2 linked regions of the Homo sapiens genome follow. The protein of the gene in region 2 purifies or fractionates together with the protein of the main gene of each other region. This does not show direct contact. Each region holds a gene or a part of one and is shown on either strand. Other genes may lie near its edges. The genes, in order: UBXN6 and VCPKMT.

Region 1 (3,592 bases), on a different chromosome or scaffold from region 2:
CAGCAGTGGGGCCGGGGCACACATGCCTTCCACACTGCAGGGCAGAGTCCCTGTGTCTCCTGGGGCTGCTGTACCACAAACCTGGTGGCTTAAAGCAAGTCACCATCTCACAGCTTGGGGGTCAGAGTGCACACATGCCCCGCCAGGCTAACATCAAGCTGTGGGCAGGACCAGGCCCTCCTGGAGAGTTTCCCAGTGCTCGGAGGCGCTGCATCCCTCAGCTCGGGGTCCCTTCCTCCACCTTCACAGCCATGCGCAGCCTCTTCCAGTCTCTCTCTGATTCACCCTCCTGCCACCTCTTGTGAGGACACTGGGTCCCGGACCACCCAGGATCATCTCCCAGCTCAAGACCTTTCATCATACCCAAGCCCCTCTTGCCAGGTGAAGTTGCGCATCTGCAGGTTCCAGGAATAGGATGTGGCCGTCTCAGGACACCCTGTCCCTCTGGCCACAGGGAAGCCAGGCCTGTGACAGCACTCGCCTCCCCTGCAGGGACTGGGCCTTTGTGGGCACAGCACAGCCTCCCCTAGCGCACGGGACTTCCTCCCCAGGTGGGTGGCTCATCGGGCACTTGTGGCCAGGTGCTGGCCTGAGAACAGGTATCCACATGGTCCCACCTTGACAGGGAGCCACACCCAGCCCCCAAGCCATCCGCTCTTCAGCAGGTGGGCCTGCCCTGTGTCCCACGGTTTCAACGGAGAACCAAGAAACTATATTCAAACAACCTGTTTATTTGGGCTTATGATTTACTAACTGCAGGTCTATGTGCAGGAAGGCCAGCATCCCCTCCTGCCGTTGTCACCCACATCCACAGAGCAGCCCTAGTGCCAGGTGCAGCCACTGCCACCCACGGCACACGGGAACAGGACCCATGCTGCAGGCCTGCTCTCCTGCCCAGGGAGATGCCACGTGTGTCTGTCCGGCAGCTTCATGACACAGTTACCAAGCAGCTAGGGAGGGCTTAGATTTGTTGGTGTCCCCAGGCCTCTCCCTCGGGGGCTTGGGCGCATCCCCACAGCCCCCAAGGGATGGGGGCTCTGCCACGGGGCCCAATTCCACAGCTCCACGGCTGGCGCCCCTCCCGTGCCCATGGGGCAGAGCCAAGTATTTCCAGAGGTGGCTTGGAGGCCCTGGGGTGGCGGGGAGAGGAACAGGGAGAGCATGAGACAGACCCACAGGGCTGAGGCCAACCCTGCTTTTATTTCACAAGAGCTTCTCGATGGCTGACAGGAGCTCGGGTTTCAGGATGGAGTCCGGCTCGGCCCCCGCGGCCTTGATGTCCTCCAGCACAGCCATGTCCCACGAGAAGGTCAGGAGGGCAGAGGGCACCTGCGGTAGGGGTAGGCCGTCACTCTGAGACCGAGAGTCGGCCCTTGCCGCGGCAGGGAACTCAGCGGGCAACCTGGGCGCGGGGATGCCCCGGCCTGGAAGCCATCTCAGCTGGTGGAGGCTGTGGCTCGCACCCAGGCCTCCTGCCCTCTCCCTCCGGGACTCCAGGACCTAAGCCTAAACCTACTGCACTAGCTAACGCACGTCACCGCTCCCATTTGATGGGGAAACTGAGGCGTGGAGTAGTTATGAACTTGCTCGAGGCCCTGCTGCCAGTAAGTGGGAAAGCAGGATTCAAACCCAGGGACCTGCCCAGGCCCCCTGCTCTGAGAACAAGGAGGCTCCCTCCTGGGGGTGTCTGTGCCGGTCCCAGGAGAACCTGCAGAGGCATCGGGTCAGCGGTGCTCCTGCGGGCCGACACTCACCAGCCCGCACTCGTTCAAGGCCAGGTTCTCGTCCTCGGACAGCTTCTGCCCTCCCGAGGCCAGCAGCTCAAAAGGCAGCCAGTCGCTCTGCAGGGCCTCCCGGACGAACCCGTACACCGCCCCCAGCCGCTCCCGAGCGTAGAAAGTGCCTGGGGAGTGGGGGAGTCAGAGCGGGTGGGGCCCAGGGCCCCCTACCAACCCGAGCCGCCCTCCACGGGCATCGTTGGTGCCCACCCTGCAGGAGGCAGCCATCGGGGAGGCGCACGCGCAGCAGCGTGTAGTTGTACTTGCGCAGCCCCCGCTGCTCCTCCTTCTCCCGCATGGCCTTGGTCCGCAGCACGCTCAGCCGCTCCACCGCCTCGGACCTGCACACGCGGGCCAGGTCACGAGGGCTGGCCGGGGTTCTTCCACCCCGCCCCGCCCCACTCTGCTCCGCGGACGTCAGGCCCACCTGAGCCTCTGCTCCCGCTTGATCTCCTCTGCTGTGAGGTTGAAGAAGTCCCCAGGCAGTTCGAACTGCGAGGCCAGGGGCGAGGGCTGGAAGACGCGGCGCTGCCTGTCCAGCTTGGCGCGCACGGGCTCCGCAGCCAGCAGCTGTTCCTTGTGCCTCTCCAGGCTCTGGGGCTGGGCCAAGGTGGTCTCGCTCAGCACGTAGAACTCCTCGGGGTCCTCTACAGCGTGGCAGGACATGGGTGTCACTGTGCAATGGAGAGACCCCCAAGCCGGGCCCTCCTGCCCCGAGGCCCCTCGTCCCCATTCCCTACTCAGCCAGGCCCTGTCCACTTACCCTGATCCTGGGCGGGAAGCAACACCTTCTGGAACCCAATGGCCTCAAAAAACTCGTGGGTCCCTTCCAGGCAGTTAATGCGCTCCTGGGGGTGGAGATGGGCGTCACTGGGGGCCCCTGGCTTCCTCCATGGCCTGGCCACACCCCACCCAGTCCAGGGGCCCGGCTCTCGCTATTGGGAGCAGCTGTCGACCCCTGGATGGGGCCCAGCCCTGGGGGTGCCTCAGTGCTGGATGCAAACCTGCTTTTCTACGGTGGGGGCTGTGGAGTCTCCAACAGCTCTGCACAGAGGAAAGAGTCACAACCAGGCACGAAGAGTGAGGCTGAGGAGCCAGACACTGCTGGGGCCTGATGCGAGGCTAACACCGCCCAGGACCCCAGTCCCTGCCCTTTCCCCCAGAAGAACCAGACATCTGGTTTGCATGAGAAACCTCCCCAGAGTCGACATGTTCCCAAACAAGCCCAGCTGAAGAGGAGGAAAAGGATGCAGGTGAGGAGAGGCAGAATTTGTTGATTTGGGGTGACCGGTGCATAAAAGTCTTGCTCTCCATCTTGTCCTGCTACCTTCTACTGGCCGAACCCTTCACTGCTTGTGGCTCAACTCTCGCTAGCTCCTCCAGGGAGCCCACCGCCTGGTGTGGGCCACCACCGGCTCCTGCAGGCCAGCTGCCCCCACCCCCAGCCTGGGCCCCGGGGGCCAGAAGGCACGCCCACCTGAAACACCTTGTTCTGCAGCTTGATCTTCCGGTACTTCTCCTCCTCGGGGTGCAGGTGGATGTTGTCCAGGTACCTGGGGTAGGTGGAGAAGGTGAGTGGGGCACAGCCCAGGCTGCCCACCCGGCCCCTCTGTGCCTCCTGCTCCAGGTAACAGCAGCTCAGCCACACTTGGCCTCTAGTCAGAGGGAAGAAGCGGCCCAGTGACGCGAGGGCAGCAGACCATCTCCGGGTGGAAGGCACACCTCGGACACCCCATGGAGCCCACCCCTGGTGCCAGCAGGAGCCCCACGGAACCCCTCACCGTCCCACCAGCCCTGGAAGGGCACAATTAACC
Region 2 (5,739 bases):
ACCCTGACTCTACAAAAAATACAACAAAGCTAGCCAGCTGTGGTGGCGCACCTGTAGTTCCAGCTACTAAGGAGGGTGAGGTAGGAGGATCACCCAAGCCTGGGAAGAGTAGGTTGCAGTGAGCCAAGATTGTGCCACTACTGCACTCCAGCCTGGGCAACAGAACAAAACCCTGTCTCAAAAAAAAAAAAAAAAAAAGAGAAAGCAGGAGGGCATAAAAACTGGAGGGTGAAAAGACATTTAAGGAACCTGGGTGGACTATTATAGTCAAGGTCAAACTTATTTTTACAAATTTCATGTTATAAAACAAGCTAAAAAGTGGTCATTTGTCCTAAGACATCATTAATAACAGCTAGCACTATCTGTACCTCACAAAGCACCACAGATTTAGGTTACACTGCCTTGCAAACTGCTTAATGAAATGCTAAGGACAGTATGAACAAAGTATCTTGGCGGGGGGGAAACCAGCAAAGGAAACTTTTAAGACTGAAATAAACCTGAAAGGAATGAACTGATTTCTTGACTTGTATCCTTAATGTCTCTAAATAGGGCTGCTTTTGCTCCTGTTAACTGTTTAGATGTTCACTTTCTTCAAAGGTATTTCTGAAATTCACAGTCACAAGGTCTCAAAAACAATGTTTATTTTAACACATAAAATGTACCATCTAGCACCAATGCCTATAAATACCAGAATTCCATCCGGTTACTACTCTTTGGAACAAGTATGATTAAAGTCCTTGACAGATTATTGTATATGAGCGAATGGCTTCATAACATAAAACAGAGAGACACAGAACAGAAATTCATTTGGTATATACATATAGAACTACATTTGTAGTTATTCAAAAACCTTTCACTGCTTCATGTAAACAATACCAGTATTTTTAAGCCAGATTTTCCTGGAACATATACATAAAGTGCATGAGCCACGTAAGTGCATAAGCCTGAAACTGGTCTTTCTATTCTCACTCCATGCTCAAATGAAAAATCTGTAAAGATATCTTTTGTTCCTCCAATCTTCTGATTTGTCTTCTTAGCAACTCATTACAGTACAATTTACTGATTAAATCACATAGATATGTATGGTGGAGGAAAAGAAAACTTTGGCTAATATAAGTATACAAGACAATATCTCAGTTCTTTTTAAAATTAAAAGAACATTTCAGTATTAAAGATATTTTAAAAGAAATGAAGTGGAAAATACAAATGATAAATATTGTATAATTATGTACAAAATGAAAACCTTTTAAACTCTGAAGACAAACTAAAATTTACTAGTTTGAATTTAAAACATTATTATATAATAGCAGATAGTTCTCTTCAGAAATTTATCTCTAGCTTCCTGTAAAAGGTCCAGTCAAATCATGTTGGCTGTTTTTGGCAGATTTCAGCCTCGCCTCAATACCAATTTTTATTTGAATAACTGATTCCCAACATTTAAGAAGAACTTGATGCTGAACTAAGTAACCTAAGCTGGATTCAGGGCCATTGGCAGGCAGGCAGGCAAGCAGGAATTTTTCGTATTGCAGACAGCCCCTGGTGGTCATCATCTATACATCGGATCTCTAAGGACGTGCCGGAAAAAAAAATCTGTGAACACAATCTTCCCATGCTGTATTCACATGCTCTATTCACATCTTTAGTTTACCCAGGTTGTTAGAGCCTTGGGTAAGATGATTAAAGGCTTCACGATGGAAATTTCTATAACAAAAAAAAAGGAAACTTAAAAGATTGATTTACCACAAACTATTTACTGGGTATTTAATAATGCCTAATATGCCTCATAATGCCTAGTATGCCTAGTATAACAGTGGCTACATGCAATTCAAGTGAACAACCATGCATGTTTATAGATGGTTCTTTGCTGACACCTAACAAGCAACTGAAGAAAGAACAGATGCATTGGACATTATCAAAATTAAAATATATGTGCTTCAAAAGACACAACATAGGCCGGGTGTGGTGGCTCACACCTGTAATCCCAGCACTTTGGGAGGCTGAGGTGGCAGAGCACTTGAGGCCAGGAGTTCGACACAAGCCTGGCCAACCTAGTGAAACCCAATCTCTACTAAAAATACAAAAAAATTAGCTGGGCGTCGTGGCACATGCCTTTAGTCCTAGCTACTTGGGAGGCTCACACAGGAGAATCACTTGAACCTGGGAGGCAGAGGTTGCACTGAGCCAAGATCATGCCACTGCACTCCAGACTGGGTGACAGTGCGAGACTCTGTCTCAAAAGAAAAATAAGAAAATAATAAATTAAGAAAATACAAGACACACTATTGAGAAAATGAAAAGACAACCCACAGAATGGGAGAAAATATTCACAAATAATGCATCTGTAAGTGTTTAGTATTCAGAATGTATAAGGAACTCTCACAACTCAAAGTAAAAAGACAAATAAGTCAATCTGAAAATGGGCCAAGCATTTCTTCTAAATACAGAAAAGATACCCAACATCATTAGTCATTAGAGAAATGAAAACCACAGTTTAGAGACTATCTCATACCCAGTGAGATGGGTATAATTAACAAATGTTGGTAAAAATGTGGAGAAAACTGGAACCCTTATACACTGCTAGTGAGAACGTATAATGGTATGGTAGATTAGGAACACAGTTTGGCAAGTCTTCAAAAAGTTAAACAGAGTTCCCATATAACCTTGCAGTTCTCCTCTAGGTATATACTCAAGAGGTCTGAAAACATGTTCACACAAAAATTTGTAGATGAACGTCCATAGCAGCATTATTCATCTCATCAATGGATGGATAAGGTGTGGTACAGCCACATAAAGGAATATTATTCAGCCACAAAAAGGAGTTAAGTGCTAATGTGTGCTACAATGTAGATAAGGCTCGAGAATACTGTGCTGAGTGAAAGAAGACAGTCACAAGAGGCCACACAGTATGTGACTTGTTACATATGACATGTGCAGAATAGGCAAATCCATAGAGATTAGTGGCTGCCAGCAGCTGGGGACGGGGGTAACAGGGAGTGACTGCTAATGGGTAAGAGGCTTCTCTGGGGGGTGAAATCATTAAAAATTAGAAAGTGGTAATTTACACAACTATGTGAATATACTAAAAACCACCAAATTGTACACCTTAAAAGCGTGAATTTTATGGTATGTGAGTTACATCAACTAAAAAATAAGAGTTTTTTTTTTTGGCCGAAAAAAAAAAAAAAGCCTCTATATTTAGGAAACACAAAATCTTTCTGCCTCCAAAAAATTCTACTTTTAAAACTGCACAACAGCTTCAGTTAACACTAGATCCCTTAAAGCACAAAACAGTTTTTTTTGTATCTGTGGCACCATGCCACATAAATGTTAATCTGAATAATCCCGCTGCTGCCTTTTTACTTAGATTTAGTCCTAACACCTACTTCTGTTCCCTAAGTTTTATTTGCTTTTGACTAGAATTCATATAATCAGAAAACTTTACCACAAACATAATCAAAGCAAAGATGATAGAAAAAGTGTGGGCTTATTGAATCTAGCATCCTTAATTCATAAAACTAATCATCTCCCTGCCTTACACTAGTCACATATACCAAAGGTGCTGGAAATACAAAAATAGATGAAAGGCCAGGCGCAGCAGCTCACACCTGTAATCCCAACAATTTGGGAGGCCGAGGTGGGCAGGTCACTGGAGTCCAGGAGTGCAAAATCAGCCTGGACAACATGGCAAAACCCTGTCTCAACAACAACAAAAAAAATACAAAAATTAGCTGGGCATGGTGGTGCATGCCTATGGTCCCAGGTACTCAGGAGGCTGAGGTGGGAGGATCACTTCTTGAGCCTGCAAGGCAGAGGCTGCAGCAAGCCGAGATTGCACCACTGTACTCCAGCCTGGATGACAGAGTGAGACCCTATTTCAAAAAAAAAAAAGGATGAAGTACAATTCTTCCCTCTTTCTACAGGCTCAAACCCTAGGTGTCACTGAGGCAACCTGCATAAAATGTGATTGTTATACAGGGTAAAACATGCACCAAGAAGCGGGAAAATACATAAATTCTACTTAATTGAGTGCATTTATCTTTTATGGACTCATCTGCCTTGTTGTATTTCATTTCCTGTAAACAATTTTTAATAAGGAAAAGTTCACAAAGGTAAGAGCAGGCATTTTAAAATCTCACAGAGATAAAAGAAACTTATAAATAGCTAATAACTTGTCTGAGGTAATACCCAATTATAGAGCTATACAATTTACGCCTATGGAGAAGCTGGAAAAGGCCTTTAAAAGCGAAGCCTGGCCAGGTATGGTGGCTGATGCCTGTAATCTCAGAACTTTGGGAGGCCGAAGTGGGCGGATCACTTGAGCCCAGGAGTTCGACACCAGTCTAGGCAACACGGTGAAACGTGTCTCTACTTAAAAAATACGAGAAAAAAAAAAAAAAAAAAAAAAAAAGCCTGGCTTTAGAGCAAAAACCCAAGGCAAGATAGATTAAATTATCTTGACAATGAAGTTACTGCCTGAGTCCAGTGAATCATTAGAGCTGTTTCTCCACATCAAAATCAACGCCCATACCACACATATGCCCTGAAATAGTGTCCAGCTGATGAAACCTCCTTGGAGAATGAAGAACTGAGAATGTTATTTACCGATTTTTTCTTTCTGATGTATATAATATGAATATCTTCACTTCGATACTCTTCATCATGTTTTTCCAAAGGAATTTTTTCAAAGTCAAAATCTAGCTGAAGGAGCTATAAATTTAAAAGAGACATACTTCAAATTCAATAATATGAACTGACCTGTGGGTGACAGAAGTCAGAATGCTGGTTACTTTTTTTTTGAGAGTCTCACTCTGTCACCCAGGCTGGAGTGCAGTGGTGCGATCTTGGCTCACTGCAACCTCCACCTCCCTGGGTTCAAGTGATTCTCCTGCCTCAGCCTCCTGAGTAGCTGGGATTACAGGCAAACGACACCACACCCAGCTAATTTTTGTATTTTTAGTAAAGAAAGGGTTTCACCATGTTGACCAGGCTGGTCTCGAACTCCTGACCTCATGATCTGCCCATCTCGGCCTCCCAAAGTGCTGGGATTACAGGCGTGAGCCACCGCGCCTGGTCAGTGGTTACCTTTTGAGTATTGCCTGGGAAAGGGCAGTGTGCAAACCTTCCAAGATCCTGAAAATGTCCTCTATCTTTATGTTGGTAAGTAGTTACTTGGGTGTATACATATGAAAAATTAAGCTCAGCACTTGACTGATACATATGCATTTTACATATGCTTTACCCCAATAAAAGCTGTTTAACAGTACGAAATTTTCATTATGCATCATTTCAAAAGTTCATGAACATTTTTCATATTCAAGAAAAACATGAAAATAAACAAACATTTTAGTATTTGTTACCTGAGGCAGTCATATACCTGCTTTCTCATTAAACCAAAGTAGTCCTTCCAGCAGACAAAACTGCAGGCCTATATAGATGTACCCTCAAAAGGAGTCACTCACAATGTGATAGATTTGTGCCCATATAAGGGTTTGGGTGATCACTAGGGGAAGAAGAGTGACAGATACATAAAACCCTATATACTATATTTTGCAACTTCCTGTAAGTCTTTTCTAACTATTTCAGACAAAAAGTTTAAAAAACAAAAAAAAAGACCCTAAAAATAGACAGGTATCTAGGTTGGAGGTTTCATAAATATGTAGAGAAAAACACAGAAGTAAAAACTTATCACTTGGCAACATGGGAAAACCCCATCTCTACAAAAAAATACAAAAAGTTAGC

Evidence for each region.
Region 1: the proteins of VCPKMT (region 2) and UBXN6 purify together in Homo sapiens (affinity purification with mass spectrometry; 4 studies listed by BioGRID and IntAct, with this or other methods). This does not show direct contact.

Annotation. Positions count from the first base shown.
Region 1 is NC_000019.10:4,444,295-4,447,886, forward strand, and holds the end of UBXN6 (UBX domain-containing protein 6), read right to left. Parts: exon of another isoform or gene 3,332-3,592; coding exon 3,256-3,331; exon of another isoform or gene 2,894-3,255; coding exon of another isoform or gene 2,811-2,893; exon of another isoform or gene 2,627-2,810; coding exon 2,542-2,626; exon of another isoform or gene 2,426-2,541; coding exon 2,206-2,425; exon of another isoform or gene 2,120-2,205; coding exon 1,989-2,119; exon of another isoform or gene 1,904-1,988; coding exon 1,755-1,903; exon of another isoform or gene 1,330-1,754; coding exon 1,204-1,329; 3' UTR 712-1,203; downstream 1-711. UniProt on the Homo sapiens protein: May negatively regulate the ATPase activity of VCP, an ATP-driven segregase that associates with different cofactors to control a wide variety of cellular processes.
Region 2 is NC_000014.9:50,108,013-50,113,751, forward strand, and holds the end of VCPKMT (protein N-lysine methyltransferase METTL21D), read right to left. Parts: intron 5,501-5,739; coding exon of another isoform or gene 5,498-5,500; exon of another isoform or gene 4,708-5,497; coding exon 4,603-4,707; exon of another isoform or gene 4,074-4,602; coding exon of another isoform or gene 3,930-4,073; exon of another isoform or gene 1,702-3,929; coding exon 1,687-1,701; 3' UTR 625-1,686; downstream 1-624. UniProt on the Homo sapiens protein: Protein N-lysine methyltransferase that specifically trimethylates 'Lys-315' of VCP/p97; this modification may decrease VCP ATPase activity.